2 separate regions of the Homo sapiens genome follow, and region 2 is linked to region 1. Evidence: fine-mapped expression QTL. Tissue or cell type: whole blood. Region 1 holds a variant in brackets; the other region holds the start of a gene. All regions are shown on one strand. Distances are between the middles of the regions.

Region 1 (8,105 bases):
TTATGATGCCGTTTTCTTTCCTAGCATATCAGTTATACTTTTTTTTTTTTAAACCTTTCTTAGTGGTTTCTTTAGAGTTGGAATTTTTATTTGTTTTTATCTTTCTTAGTGGTTGCTTTAGAGTTGGAGTTTTCATTTATAACTAATCCACGTTTGCTTTCAGATGACACTATACCACTTTGCAGGTAGGGTGGTATATAATAACAAAATAATCCTAATCCTTGCCTCTCGTTCCTTGTATCATTGCTGTCATTCATTTTGCTAAGGTATAAGCAGACATAAGCATACATAATTGAATATATTGTTGCTATTATTATTTTGAACAAACTACATCTTAGGTCATTTAAGAATAAGAAAAATAAAAGTTTTTATTTACCTTCACTTACTCCTTCTTTGATGCTTCTCCTTTGTTTGTGTTGATCCAAATTCTGACCTATATTCTTTTCCTTCCCTCCAGAGAACTTCTTTTAATGCTTCTTTCAAGGCATGTCTACTGGCAACTAATTCTCTTAATTTTGGTTTGTCAGAGAGTCTTTTACTTCTACTTTATTTCTTTGCAGGGATAATGTTATGTAGTTTATAATTCTAGTTGATGAATTTTTTTCTCTCTGTACTTTATTTAATTTATTATTATTATTTTTTGAGACAGAGTCTTGCTCTGTTGCCTAGGGTGGAACGCAGTGGTGTGATCTCAGTTCACTGCAACCTCTGCCTCCTAAGTTCAAACGATTCTTGTACCTCAGCCTGCTGAGTAGCTGGTATACAGGCACATCGCCGCCACACCCAGCTCATTTTTGTATTAGTGGAGACAGGGCTTCACCATGTTGCCCAGGCTGGTCTCGAATTCTTGATCTCAAGTGATCTACTCGCCTCAGCTTCTCAAATTGCTGGGATTACTCCCCGTGCCCGGCCACTCTCTGTACTTTAAACATTTCGCTATACTCTCTTCTTGGCTCGTGTAGTATCTGAGAAATAGGATATAATTCTTTTTTGCTCCTCAGTAGATAAGGTGTATTTTTCCCTATCTGGTTTCTTTCAATACTTTTTCTTTGTTTGATTTTTCTGTAGGTTGAATATGATATGCCTAGGTGTAGTTTTCTTTTCTTTTTTTTTTTTTTTTTTGGCATTTATTCTATTCAGTATTCTATGAGCTTCCTGGATAAATTCTCAGTTATTATTGTCTGAATATTTCTTCTGTTCCTTTCTCTCTTCTGAAATTCTTATTATACATGTTAACACCTTTTACAGTTGTCTCACAGGTCTTGGATATTTCATTCTATCAAAACAGCTGCATTTTTGAATTCTGTTTGCTAATATTTTATTTGAGAATGTTTGCATTAGGTTTGAAATAAGATTAAATGGTTGTTGGTTGTTTTGTTTTGTAGTGTTTTGTTTTTGTTTTTTCAGTAGGACCTCTACCAGTTTTGCTCTCAGCATTAGTTGGTAACTTCTCCCTTTTCAGTGTTGTGGAGCAGTTTAAATCACATCTGATGCTGTGGAACAACATACCCCCAGAAATCTGGGATGACTTTTCCCTGTTTCTTCTATGTTAGTAGTTGGGTCTGATTTCCTATTACTGCCTGAATAAATTTTGGTAATTTACAATTTCTTGCATTGGTCTAGATTTTTAAATTTATTAACAAAATGGCTTGTGGTTTTTGTTTATTGATTTTAATAGAATAGAATTTACTCATTGAGATATACATATGGAAAAGAATGTAAATAATATGTGTACCACTGAATTAATTGTTATAAAATGCACTCACAAGCCAGGTGCGGTGGCTTACAGCTGTAATCCCAGCACTTTGGGAGGCCAAGGCAGGTGAATTGCTTGAGTCTAGGAGTTCGCAACCAGCCTGGGCAATGTGGCAAAACCCTGTCTCTACAAAAAATATAGAAATTAGTTGGATATTGTGGCACTCACCTGTGGTCCCAGCTACCCAAGAGGCTGAGGTGGGAGGATCACTTGAGCCCAGGAGGTTGATGCTGCAGTGAGCCGAGATCACGTCACTGCATTCCAGCCTGGGTGACAGAGTGAGACCCTGTCTTAAAAAAAAAAAAATTCAGTCACCACCTAAATCGAGGAATACACCTCCTGAACATGGTCCCTCTCTCCCTGTTTGAAGGTATCAGCCCACCCCAATACCTCAGTATAATTTTGGGCATTGTCCGGATGAAGAGCAAAGTGTGTGTGGTTTTATACTTGATATGAGGTTTATGTTTACTGTGGCTTTTAACACCATTTCTTTTTTGTCTTTTTTGATTGTACGTCTGAGACTGGCTCTGTGGCTCACACACAGCATTTGTGAGTGCTTGTGCATAGGAGTGTGTGTTTTAGAGAGGTGGAGTGCCACCTGATCAGTTCACGTTCGTTAATTGTGTTACCTCAACTTTTCTATGTTTTTACTGATTTTTTGTTACTTATTCTACAGAGACTTGTGTTAAATTTCTCATTATGCTTGTGAATTTGTCCAAGTATCATATTTAGGACTGCTTTTGCATTATATATTTTATGGCCCTGTTATTAGGTGCATATAAGTTTAGAACTGCTGTATGTTCTTGATTAATTGACCCTTTTATTTTAATAAAGGGTCTCTCTTTACTCCACTTTGTCAGGTACTGAGATAACAATGTTGGCTGGGCATGGTGGCTCGCGTCTGTAATCCCAACACTATGGGAGGCTAAGGTGGGTGGATTGCTTGAGCTCAGGGGTTCAAGACCAGTTTGAGCAACACAGCGAGACCTCATCTCTACAAAAAATACAAATATTAGACAGGTGTGGTAGCATGTGCCTATAGTCCCAGCTACATGGACAGCTGAGGTGGGAGGATTGCTTGAGGTGGAGGTTGCAGTGGGTTGAGATTGCGCCACCGCACTCCAGTCTTGGCAACAGAGCAAGACTTGTCTCAAAAGCAAACAAACAAAAAACAATGTTTTTCTGTGTGTTTGTCAGGTTCCAGGAGAAGACCAAAACCACGCAGTGATTCGGATAGGGAAAGCTCAGTGTCAGGGATTTTTTTGTTTGTTTTTGAGACAAGAGTCTCCCTCTGTTATGCAGGCTGTAGTGCAGTGGTGCGATCTTGGCTCACTGCAACCTTTGCCTCCCAGGTTCAAGTAATTCTTGTGCATCAGCCTCCCGAGTAGCTGGGATTACAGGCATGCGCCACCATGCCCGGCTAATTTTTGTATTTTTAGTAGAGACGGAGTTTCACCATGTTGGCCAGGCTGGTCTTGAACTCCTGGCCTCAAGTGATCCGCCCGCCTCGGCCTCCCAAAGTGCTGGGATTACAGGGGTGAGCCACCGTGCCCAGCCAAGTGTCAGGGATTTTTATAGGGAGTTGGCACGATGGGTTATTGGCTAGTGAGAGTTAAAGAGAACTCTAGAGAATACAGGACTAGCAGATGAAGAGAACACCTCCAACCCTAGGTGAGCGCCGCCAAGGAAGGAGCCCCCACCCGGACAGGGAGACCTGGCTTCCTACGTGGAAGAAATTGTTAGCGGCCTTCTGTGGGACCTGAGGACGTCCACTCACCTGGGTGGGTGGTGGGCCGGGGGGATGTGGAGCCATCGCAGGGGAGGTGCTGGGGAGCTGCTGGAGCCGGAGCTGGAAAGCCTACTCTCTTGAGTCCCACAGGCTCCTGTGTGTGGCTCGGATGGGGTGGGGGCTTGTGGGGTAGTTGTCTGGTGTGCTGCTTGTGCTGTCAGAGTCTGCTGGAGAAAGGGGGGCCTTACGGAAACCTGGAGAAAGTCCCCTCCTTCCCCAGTGACCTTCCAGCACCCCACGGTGATGGGACGTTGAACTGGGCACTAAAGCAGGTGGGTGGGTTTGGGCTCCTAGCGACTGAGTGAATGAAATGCATTCAATTATGTACTTTATTCTAAAAATGATTGAGTGTCCACTATGCTAGTTTTAATCAGGTTAGACTTTGCAACTTTATATTTTAAGAAGAAACCCTCTCAGCACTTTGGGAGGCCAAGGCAGGTGGATCACGAGGTCAGGAGATCGAGACCATCCTGGCTAACACGGTGAAACCCCGTCTCTACTAAAAATATAAAAAATTAGCCGGGCATGGTGGCGGGCGCCTGTAGTCCCAGCTGCTCGGGAGGCTGAGGCAGGAGAATGGCATGAACCCGGGAGGCGGAACTTGCAGTGAGCC[A/G]AGATCACACCACTGCATTCCAGCCTGGGTGACAGAGCAGGGCTCCGTCTCAAAAAAAAAAGAAGAAGAAGAAGAGGAAACCCAATAGACTATTGGCCTTAGGAGCTTGTTTTTAGGGCAGTGGTCTGATTTGGGGATGACAGAGGAGCACTTGTCCATTTCAGAAAATAAGTGGCAATGATGTAAATGGTCCATCAGGCACAAATATTAAACAAGATGACCAGAATTACCAACTGTAAGAATGTTAAATTGTTTTCACAGGATGTAGTAACAACCTCAAAAGTCTAAGCATTTTTCTTTATTAGAAATAATGTTGGCCGGGCACAGTGGCTTATGCCTGTAATCCCAGCACTTTGGGAGGCTGAGGCAGGCAGATCACCTGAGGTCGGGAGTTCAAGTCCAGCCTGACCAACATGGAGAAACCCCGTCTCTACTAAAAGTACAAAAATTAGCTGGGTATGGTGGCACATGCCTGTAATCTCAGCTACTTGGGAGGCTGAGGCAGGAGAATCACTTGAACCCGGAAGGCAGAGGTTGCGGTGAGCCCAGATCGAGCCATTGCACTCCAGCCTGGGCATTAAGAGTGAAACTCCATCTCAAAAAAAAAAAAAAAAGAAAAAAAGAAATAATGTTGCCAAGGAAGGCTTATTTGGATATAGAATAGTGTATACTATTCTGAAGATGAAAGGGAAGAGGAACATTGGTTTCTCACTAGGAATGCCTTCCATTTCCACTTATACTTAGTTTCAGGCTAACTACTTGAATTATGTTAGTTACATTGAGAGAAGAAAAGACCTGAGAAATTCAGAACTTACAATGTGGAAAAGGACATGAACAGAACACTGGGGATGGAGCGTTTTGTTTCTCCATTATTCACCTGCATGCCATCCCCTCTACTAAGATGATACACAGATGAAAAAAAGAGCTCCTCCCTTTAAGAAGGAAACATCCTAGAAAATAAATAGGTCAGGACTGTGAAATATTGGCTTCTTACTTAAATATGCAAGAAGCAAACTATAGAAAAACCAGTGTCTAAAAAAATCAATCTGACAAATTGATGAAACAAGAAAAATCAATCTAACGGAAGATAAACAATTAAGATTTAAGACTGTATTTTAAAATATTATTGATTTAACGTTGGACTAGAGACATTAAAGCAAGTAAACATCTTTAAGAATCTGGGAACCCCTTGCTCCAATTAATATTTTAGGCAGTGGAGCTTGATTTAAAAGTGCACGTTTTCTTAACAACTAATCTAGTTTTCAGGGCTAGTATTCTGTTGACTGGTCTGTCTTTTGGGTGCTAAATAAAAATCGGCATCTCATTGCATTTTAATTGCCTCATCCGATATAGCATATTGTAAACTGGACATTTTCTGAGGAGAAACAACATGCATTTGCCCATGCACTGGTGCATTTAAATGTCAAGTATGTTAAATTTATTGCTTTCATAAATTGTATCGATAGTAATAAATTTGTAATTTGAAATAAATTACAAATATAAATAATATATTTCTTAAGGTTTGTGTTACCTCATGAATTTTCCCCACTAATCATATTACAAGCAAATTACTTGCCAATATTAATTGTGCCTCTACTTGCAGGCAACGTTAATAGTAAAATAATGTAGGTGCCAACATTAAACCTTGAAGGGAAAGAGTACTCCCTGAAAATGGCCTCTCTTTTGTTATCAGGTATTGATAAATGAATATCAATTCATTTTATTCTGCTTTAATTTTAACAGTCTTTTTTTTTAAACGAATTTGAGGCTGGATGCTTTTTATAGCTTATTTAGTGGTATGCTTCCATCATCCATACCCAATGAAATTGGTGTGGATAATTTAAAAGTATTCATGTGTAAAACCACCCTTTAATAAATACAGACACTGTCTTTTTATCTTACGGTTTTTCTCAAAAAATTGATTCTGCTGTGTTTCTTGTGGCTGTGATCACCAACATGTGATCCTAACCTGACATAGAAGGAAAGGTGGCGAAGTTTTGAGTCCTCGTGTTTGACACATTTTACAGACGTTAGTGCTGAGGGGACTTGCACATGGTCTGGTCTGTGTGTCTTGTTACATATCAGGAGAACCCTGGCCCAGGGAGCTTTTTGTCTAAGCTTTTTGTCACTGTCCCTTCCAACTTTAAAATTCCTTCATTTTGTTTTCTTCATTTGTTCTTTAGTAGTTCTTATTTCTCTGATTTACATAGTGTGTTCAATTCTTGCTTCAGGTAATAGAAGAATGAGTAAATTTGTATTGCAGTAGTGTTCCAGTAGCAGGAGAAAAATGGCCTGGGTTTAAACCCAGACTGCCCTTCCCATCTGAGTGGTCATGGGCAGTTTGCTTTACCACTTTTGCCTCAGTTAGCTTATCTGTTACAGGATAACGATAAAGAGTCATTCTTGTTGCCAGTCTAGACTTAGGTCAGTGTAAGTAGCTCTTTACTACCTGGTAAATGAGAACACTTGGCCCTCCGTATCCATGGGTTCCACGTTCGTAAATCCAACCAACCATAGTTTGACAATATTTGGGACAAAAATGGATGGTTGTGCCTGTACTGAATATGAACAGACTTTTCCTTGTCATTATTCCCTAATATAATATAACAGTATAGGATAAACAATATAGTATATAGTATAACAACTATTAGTATAGTATAACAATATAGACGATATAGTATATAGACAATATAGTATAACAATTATTACCATAGCATTTACCTTGTATTAGGTATTATAAGTAGTCTAGAGATGATTTAAAGCATACAGGAGGATGTGGGTAGACTATATGCAAACACTATACCAGGGACTTGAACATCTGTGGATTTTAGTATCTGGGGGGTCCTGGAACACATCTCCCACAGATAGTGAGGGTTAACTGTACTTTTAACGTAACATTTTTCTCTAAAGTATTTTTAAATTCATGTTCACTTAAGGAGACAATATTATTTTTGAGTAATTAAAAATTAATTTTAGGCCAGGTATGGTGTCTGTAATTCCATCACTTTGGGAGGCTGAGGCGGGCAGATTGCTTAAGCTGAGTTCACTACTAGACTGGGTAACATGGTGAAACCCCATCTCTACAAAAAATACAAAAAAATCTGCTGGGTGTGGTGGTGTGCACCATAGTCCCAGCTACTTGGGAGGGTGAGCTGGGAGGATTGCTTGAGCCCGAGAGGTCAAGGCTGCAGTGAGCTGTGACCTCACTGCTGCACTTCAGCCTGGGTGACAGAGCGTGACCCTGTCTCAAAAAAAAAAATTAATTTTAGATTTTGGAGGGTTCATGACTTCCTGGGCCTGTTCTCCTCTGTCTTGCCTCTGGCTGCACTGCTGCTGAGCCAGGCAGTTGCTGGGCTGACAGGTGGGCGGAACCTGGTCTGTGGACAGAGAGCACTCTCTTCTCCTTGGGGGACTCAGGGAATGGGCAGGAGACCCTGAGGCAGCAGGTCCAGTAGAGGCCCAGCGAGGCTGGGAGAGTGAAGGGGCTGTGGGGCACCCAGAGTCTCCTGTGTCGCTGCATGGCAGCCTCCACATAGCTGTGCCCTCACCCCTGGTTCAACACAGGCAGAAATAACCACACAGAGGGTGGCCCAGGCGCTTCCAGAGTGATAGTGGTGGGTGAGTAATAAGAGTCTTTGAAGAAGAGTCAACTGTAACCCCGAAAGGACAGTCTAGAGCTCAAGTGTCACAGACACACTACAGAGATGGTTCCTGTGATAGTCAAATTCCAGAAAGGTCAATTTGGAGAGATGTCTCAGAACATAGACCATAAATACTCACGAGGAGAGGTCACGAGGGTGGGGATAGACTTGGGGGAAAAGGCCCGAGAGACCTAACAGCAAGGAGAAGCAGTGATTCAACAACGATAGGAAAAAATTCCCCAGAGCTTAAAGAAATATATGCAGATTCCCTTTTTTCTTTCACTACATTCTGGATTGATGGAAAAA
Region 2 (8,105 bases), 190 kb before region 1:
TCTCATTCCTCATCAAATCTCCACCTACCACCCTGAGCCTCCATTGATAGCTCACTCCTGCAACAACCCCACTACAGTGATTGGTAAATGGTTATTTCCATTCTCACTCCTGCAACAACCCCACTACAGTGATTGGTAAATGGTTATTTCCATTCTCATAATTCCTTCTCCATTTATGAGTTCACATTCTACTGTAAAGAAGAACCTCCCCTTCTCCACTATTATTTTCCCTGCATTCATCACTGGTTTGTTGATCTACATCAGTGTGGACTCAACTCATGCGTTTCTATTTTGCTCACTCAGTGGTAATCTGCCAATATCATTCTTTGTTTTGTTGCTCAAATTGTCCTAGATTTCGCCAGCAAGAACTCCCTCCAACTACTTTCCATGTCCTTTGATCTCCTGTCAATCTTTGAGCACTTCTTCACTTCCTTGAACAACAAAATTATTCCAGGATCATCTTGTACTTCCACTCCAGCCCTGAAATTAACCATTTCTCCAAAGAGCCCTGATTCCTTTTGTTGGAAAACCTTATTTAGAAGATAAGATCTGGGGGCTAGCTGTGATCACTGGTACTGGGGTACCATTGCATCTAGATACTCAGCAGACAGAACTAGAAACTATTTCTGTGTTTATATGCACATATACCTACACATGTGTGCACACACATACAGCTATCTTTATATCTATCTGTATATACATATTTTAAAAAAATGAGTTCATACTACCACTTCCAGTTCCAATCCAATCCCTCAGTGTTCTTTTTAGCCTTCCCTCTTCCATGTTTTTACCTTCTCCAACAGCAAGAAACCTGGCTTTCACTGTCCCCAGTATATTTAATTTGCTGGTATAACCTCCAAATTGAAGAGATGCAGAGCACGTGCTCCCACCCTCCATAACGAGACGTATTTAGAGGTGTGGGGGAGGACCCAAAAGCAGGAAGAGTTGAACCTAAGCACAAGATAGCACTTTCCTCTGAAACCAGGAAGGCTGGAACTTCGCAGCTGTGCACCGGAGCACTCGGAATGACACTCCAGAGAAAGCAGCACTTCTCCTTGTCTACAAGAAGGAAAGGATGGAGGGGTCATGAAAGGTCACAGGAGATTGAGGGGTATAATATTAGCAAAAATCTAAGAGCCGAGCTGGACCTGCAGTCAGACCAGACACCTGTAAGACTGAGCTGTGGCAGAGCCTTAGGATCTGCTTTCTGCAGGCAATTAACCACAGGGAGGGGCTGGAAACCCGGGGCTCACACAGAGGGAAGCTGAGGACACTTGGGCTGACTGGTATGCAACATGGAAACTTCTCTTCAATCTAGTTTACATCCTTGGGTCAACCACTGGATGGCACATGGCACAGGATTTTTTTTTTTTTCTTGAGACGTAGTCTTGCTCTGTCGCCCAGGCTGGAGTGCAGTGGTGCGATCTCGACTCACTGCAACCTCCGCCTCCCGGGTTCAAGTAATTCTCCTGCCTCAGCCTCCCGAGTAGCTGGGACTCCAGGTGCGCGCCGCCATGCGCGGCTAATTTTTTGTTATTTTTAGTAGAGACGGGGTTTCACCATGTTGGCCAGGATGGTCTTGATCTCCTGACCTCGTGATCTGCCCTCCTCGGCCTCCCAAAGTGCTGGGATTACAGAATTTTTTACGTGGCTTATGTTTATGCAAGTCTTTGTAGGATGTGATCCTACAATTTTCCAGTAGAGGAAAGCTGCAAAAGAAAGGCTCAGGCTCCTTTCTGTGTCAACAAAGCAATTACTTGCTTTTGTGTTGAGGCTTAGTTTTGAATGAAAGGTGGTGTTAGGAGCATTAACCGGTTGCATATTTACAATCTACATAATATAATTTGTTGCTGCAGCAAACCAGGGACTGTGAAGAGTAAGAAAAGGGAAACCACTTCCATTCCTTGCTTGGGGTTTACTGCCCTTGCCTGGAGTTGAGAGTTTAGACTCTGCAATGTTTTACATATGTGATATAATCTCCACATACATATGCACACAAAATTATGAAGACGCAGGAACGAGGGGAGACAGATTCCTATGTAAAGGTGACCCTGCTTCTTCTGGGCATTTGTTTATTCATTCAGTACCTGCCAGTGCCCTACTCTGTTACAAATTCAGTAAAAATTTCCTTGGAATTCACTGAATATGCTCAAAAACAGTCAAGTAGGATGTTCTTTGCTACTGTTTGGCTTGGAGTTTCCTTGAAAGAAACTACAGAACAAATATAATTAACTCGATTGAATTCACTGGAAAGTAAAGTGATCAATAGTTGTGTTTTTGAGTTAACTGAAAAGTGACCTCAGGAATCACAGGAAAGGCCCAAAATTAGTCGTTTGAAACAGCTATTCATAGTTGGCCACAATATTAACACCTTCGGCGAAGCTGCGTGGTGCCCGGGGTGGAGTTCCCGAGTGTCAACAGCGTCCCTTGGGCGCTTGCGGTGGTCTTTGCCCGGCACTACCAGACCCCTCAGGGAGGACTTTTGGGATTAAAGGCATCTTAAAAGCCAACTGAACTGTGTGAGAGTTGTCAAGGTCACAACGGAGTCGTTTGTGTTTAAAACCCTGACAAGCAGGGTGGGAAGGGCCCCAGAGGCAGCGTTCTCACGCCGGAATGCCCGATAACAAGACCGTCCCGAGAGACTCCGCAAAAGCCACAACCTTGCACACTGGCTAGGCAACCTCACACCGAAAAATACCGGAGGACTCCCGCCAGCGGCGCCCGTCCGACCTCCGGCGGGCGGCGCCCTCTCACCCGTCCTCCTGGCCGCAAAATGACCGCAAACAGGGACGCCGCCCTCTCATCCCACCGCCACCCCGGCTGCGCTCAGCGGCCGCGCACCCCCACGTTTGCCAGCAGCTCCCAGAGGCGGTCAGCCTTTGGGTTTGACGACGGCAACTTCCCGGGCCTCGGCGAGCGCAGCCACGCACCCGGAAGCCGCCTCGGGGCGCGACGCCGAGCCAAAACCGCCCGCGGGCTCCGAGGCCACAGGCAAGTGGGGAGGGTGCCCCGTGGGGCTCGAGGGGACGCAGGCACGCCCAGCCCACGCACCGAGCACTCTCCTTTCCCGTCCCCGGCTCCCGCCAGCCGAGACACAACGCTCGCGTGATGACGTCGTGCGCCTGCCCGGCCCACTCCAGTAGTCTCCGACCCGGCCCACGGCCCGCCCCGCGCGATGACGTCAGTATCCACCCCGCCCGCTCCCGGTGACGTGCCAGCCCCAGGCCCACGCCGCTCCCGCCCCGCGTGATGACGCCACCGTCCCGGGCGGAGGCGGGCGTGCGGCGGAGCCGCGTCCCCTCAGAGGGGCGCTGGCGCGGGGCTGAGCCGCCCGGGATCAGCGCGAGCACCCAGCCCGCCTCGGCCGGGAGGGCAGCGCGGCACTGCGGGGCGATGAGCGGCGCCCGGGGCGAGGGCCCGGAGGCGGGCGCCGGCGGGGCTGGGGGCCGCGCGGCGCCTGAGAACCCCGGGGGCGTGCTGAGCGTGGAGCTGCCCGGGCTGCTGGCGCAGCTGGCGCGGAGCTTCGCGCTGCTGCTGCCCGTGTACGCGCTGGGCTACCTGGGGCTCAGCTTCAGCTGGGTTCTCCTCGCGCTCGCGCTGCTCGCCTGGTGTCGCCGCAGCCGCGGCCTCAAGGCCCTGCGCCTGTGCCGCGCGCTGGCGCTGCTGGAAGACGAGGAGCGCGTCGTGCGCCTGGGGGTGCGCGCCTGCGACCTGCCCGCCTGGGTGAGTGCAGACCCCTGCCCGTCCCGACCCCTGACCACCAGTCCCGATCTCCCCTCGTCCAGGCAGGCACTCCCCTCCCCGCGACCTGCCGCCTGGGTGAGTGCAGACCCCAGCCCTGCCCCGGCTCCCGCCTTCGTAGTCCCCCACCCACCCCGGTCCAGGCAGGCGCTTCCCTTCCGCCTGGGCGAGTGCAGACCCCAGCCCCGGCCCCCGGGCCGGTTCCTGCGACCTGCCAACCTAGGTGAGTGCAGACCCCGCCCCGCCCCCCGGCCCCGACTCCCAGCCTGCTGGCGACCTGCCCGCTAGGGCGAGTGCAGACCCCAGCCCCGCCCCGGCCTCCGGCCCACTCCCTGCGAACCTGTCCGCCTGGGGCCGCCGCCCGCTGCTCGCCGCTCCCGCCCTAGTCCTGAGTGCTCCGTGCCCTCCCTCCGTCCAAGTCGGGCGTCCCCTTCTCCGCTTCCCCGCCCGCCCAGGCTCCGGGTCCGGGGCGCGTCTGCCCTCGTGAAGCCTCCCCTCGCCGTCCCGCGCGGCTTTCTCGGAGACCCCTCTTCACAAAGCCCGCTTCCCTCCCCCGGCCTGCAGACCCCGAGCGCCAGCGGCAGGTACCGGGCTTGGCGCCCCCTCTTCGGCCGCGGCCCTGCCCGGAGCGCGCGCTTCCTCCTGGTGCCGCCCGCGGGGTCTCCTTAGGGGCCTGAGCGGCCGGTTCTGCTCTCAGAGCGCCCAGCGCGATTCTCGTGCGCATTCCCAAAGCCCTGCCGGCCTGGAAATGCTCCGGGTGGCTTCAGCTTTTCCTTCTCTCTGTTTTTTAAAAAACGTAATGACAGCTGGTGGGGGAGAAGTTAACTTTTTCTTCTACCGGGAGAAGACGCACTCGTGTCTTGGTTGTTTCTGACGCATTTCAAGGGCAGTAAGTGTCTCTCGAAAGATGTGGAGATATTAGATAATTGAAAGATTGTTTCAGTTTTTTTGCAAGTATAATTGTGAGACTGAGCATTTTTATATGGGATCGACCTGAATCCAGTGTGAATGTGTGTGTGTGTGGCAGGAAGTTTTGGAAGAGTTGCAGCAATAACAAGAGTCATGGTATTATTTTATTTTTAACCCGGCAGTTCTCTACCTCGTATATTTATGGACTATAGACACGAAGAGTTGGCTTCAAATCTTTTTCTTGTCATTCCCTAATTCTTTCTTAGCCATGACTTGGCTTCACAGTTTCACACTGCAAGAAAGGATTTTAATGATTCTTCCATTAGGCTTAATATAAACTTTGGGGTGAAGGTGACCAGCAGTGGGTTTCGGAAGGGTCATTTTCTCTTAGAGGAGAAAAGTCCCTGTTTCCAGTCATGAGACACCTGAGAAGTAAGGCATGACACAGATGGCAAACAAGAATTAGAAAGGAGGCGTGCCCAAGACAAGAAGAAGGTAGTAGATGCTACTTTGTGACGTCATATTGCAACTGGAGTAAGAATATAATGTAAGGAGCTTGGGAATGTACAGTTCTGCCGATGCGTGGTGAGCATGAGGGAGTCATATTTGGAGAACCAAGGTAACTGGCATGGTGCAGCTTTTAGCTAGCGGCGGGAAAAACCGAGGGGTGTGTAGAAAAAGGAAGTTAAGAGGAACCGAGGTGGGGAAAACTAAGAACAGAGGAGGTGCACTTTGGAAATGGAAAAGGACTTTAAAGTGACGTTTTGTGTCTATATTACACTAAGATGCATAATACTAAAAAGTAGCTAAAAACAGAGTCCATTAGCATCCATTGCTATGTTATATTGATAACATAGCAATGTTATCAGTGCTGAAATTTGCAGGAAGTGATGATGCTGACTTTCATAGATACTTGGTTATTGGCTAATATCAAATTTGCTTGTTAAAAATCTTTGTGAAACACAGATTTTCTTTTTCTTTTCTTTTTTTTTTTTTTTTGAGACAGAGCCTCTCCCTGTTGCCCAGGCTGGAGTGCAATGGCGTGATCTCGGCTCACTACAACCTCCGCCTCCAGGGTTCAAAAGATTCTCCTGCCTCAGCCTCCCGAGTAGCTGGGATTACAGGCGTGCACCATCACGCCCAGCTAATCTTTGTATTTTTAGTAGAAACAGGGTTTCACCATGTTGGCCAGGCTGGTCTCAAACTCCTGACCTTGTGTTCCGCCTGCCTTGGCCTCCCCAAGTGCAGGGATTACAGGCGTGAGCCACCGCGCCCGGCCACACAGACTGTACAGATGAAATTGCTGCCCTATTGAAGAACTGAAATTTTTTTTTTTTTTTTTGAGACGGAATCTCGCTCTGTTGCCAGGCTGAAGTGCAGTGGCACCATCTCAACTCACTGCAACCTCCGCCTCCCGGGTTCAAGCCATTCTCCTGCCTCAGCCTCCCGAATAGCTGGGACTACAGGCGCACACCACCACACCCAGTTAATTTTTGTATTTTTAGTAGAGACTGGGTTTCACCATGTTGGCCAGGATGGTCTCGATCTCTTGACCTCGTGATCCACCCGCCTCAGCCTCCTAAAGTGCTGGGATTACAGGTGTGAGCCACTGCGCCCAGCCTGAAATTCTTTAAAAAAAAAAAAAATACAAAAGTAATTTAGCCAAAGATTCTTTTCAAGTTTTTAATCTGTGTGACTTAAACTGATGAACTGTGGTGTTCACCTCATGAAGAATTTATATTTTCTCCAGAATGTTTTACTTGTTTATTCCAAATTTGTACTTGAGCTCATAATCCCACATGTGTAAACTTCAGTGTGCCTAGGATGCTTAAGACGCTTCTTGAAGGATTCACATGAAACTTGACAGTGATTATGTTGACAGTTTTAGAGAGATTTTAAAAATATCTTTTAAATTATACTTATGTATCTATTTTGTGATATTTATTAAAAGTGTAATATACTTTATTTTCATAATAAAACCAGCAGGTTGCATGGTCTCGAAGTGTGCCTGAAATTCTGCTGCGCGGCAGGGGTGGTGGGGGTGGTCAAAGCACATCAATAATAGAAGAAACTATGAATAAGAAAAGTTAAGATTTCAGTATTACTTGCACTTTGGGTTTGTTTTTGTTTTTTTTTTTTTCTAGAGATGAGTTCTTACCGCGTTGTCCAGGCTGGTCTCAAACTTTTGGCCTCGAGGCATCCTCCCACTTAGACTTCCTAAAGTGTGGGGATTACAGGTGTGAGCCACCATGCCTGGCCAATATTACTAGTACCTTGATTTTTACCATACATACATTGGTGCTTGGGGTTTCTGAACTTTGGACTGGTATTTTGCCTTGAACAAGATGTATCTGTACATCCCAAAGGCTGTACTTGTTTTCATAGTGTGTCGTTGACAACCGTGAATTCATGGCAGAGTGGAAACATAGGAAAACATGAATTAAGGAGATACTAATTTCCTCACCTCACCTTTGTATATATTCACTGACAGCTTTTCTTCTTACTGAGTAAAAACTGAAGCTGGATATGGAAATGAGATAAGAGTATTAATACTTTGAGAAACTATATGTACTGTTCCTGATTGAGGCTATTAGGATGTGACAGATGGCTCTCACTTAACTGTGATAATTCTGTAAGTTTGGTCCTACAGCTTTAATATAAACAGTGTTGTTATTCTTCACTTCTTTTCCCATGAACAGTTATGTTCCAACTGCTTAGGGGAAAGGCCTGGCAGGCTGGATGAATTGAGGACAGGGCTTTTTGTTGTTTAAGTGTCTACCCTGTGGTAATGGGCCCTGGACCATTAGACTACCCTGGGTGAAGAAGAGAAGATTTATTTATTTATTATTTCATTTATTTATTTATTTTTGAGACGGAGTCTCACTCTGTTGCCCAGGATGAAGGGCAGTGGCATGGTCTCGGCTCACCGCAACCTCTGCCTCCCGGGTTTAAGCGACTCTCCTGCCTCAGCCTCCCAAGTAGCTGGGAGTACAGGCGCCCGTCACCACGTCTGGCTAATTTTTGTGTTTTTAGTAGAGACAGGGTTTCACCATGTTGGCCAGGCTGGTCTCAAACTCCTGACCTCAGGTGATCCACCAGCCTTGGCCTCCCAAAGTGCTGGGATTACAGGCATGAACCACCGCGCCCAGCCTTTTTTGTTTTTTAAAGAGAGGCGGTTCTCGCTGTGTTCCCCAGGCTTGAACTCTTGGGCTCAACTCTTGGGCTCAAGCGAACCACCTACGTGAGTCTCCCAAGTAGCTGGGATTACAGTTGCATGCCACCATGCTCAGGGCTGTGAGGAAGATTCTTGAAGAGTTTTTATAGAGATTAATAAGGGCAATTTTTCATTACTATTTTTATTTATTTGAAAATATTATCTCTTCATAGGATAAAGTCTGACTCTATCCTGCTTTTACTATTGCCAATAAATGCTGATTGTATGGCTGCTATGGATA

What was found. PIP is the estimated chance that this variant, and not a neighbour inherited with it, causes the effect.
Region 2: ESYT2 starts here. The variant in region 1 is fine-mapped to the expression of ESYT2 in whole blood (TOPMed, PIP above 0.99).

Annotation. Positions count from the first base shown.
Region 1 is chr7:158,633,070-158,641,174 of GRCh38, reverse strand. The region is part of intron 27 of NCAPG2 (non-SMC condensin II complex subunit G2); the gene reads left to right. Among named protein-coding and RNA genes, the nearest start is that of MIR5707, 46 kb to the right of the region's middle. The variant A/G (reference allele first, on the strand shown) is at 4,159.
Region 2 is chr7:158,824,707-158,832,811 of GRCh38, reverse strand. It overlaps ESYT2 (extended synaptotagmin 2), which reads left to right and starts at 3,303. Exons shown (of 23, transcript NM_001367773.1): 1 at 3,303-3,723. The coding sequence starts at 3,394. RefSeq lists enhancers at 2,340-2,449, 4,460-4,529 and silencers at 2,760-3,489, 3,580-3,679, 3,730-3,919, 4,010-4,059, 4,140-4,339.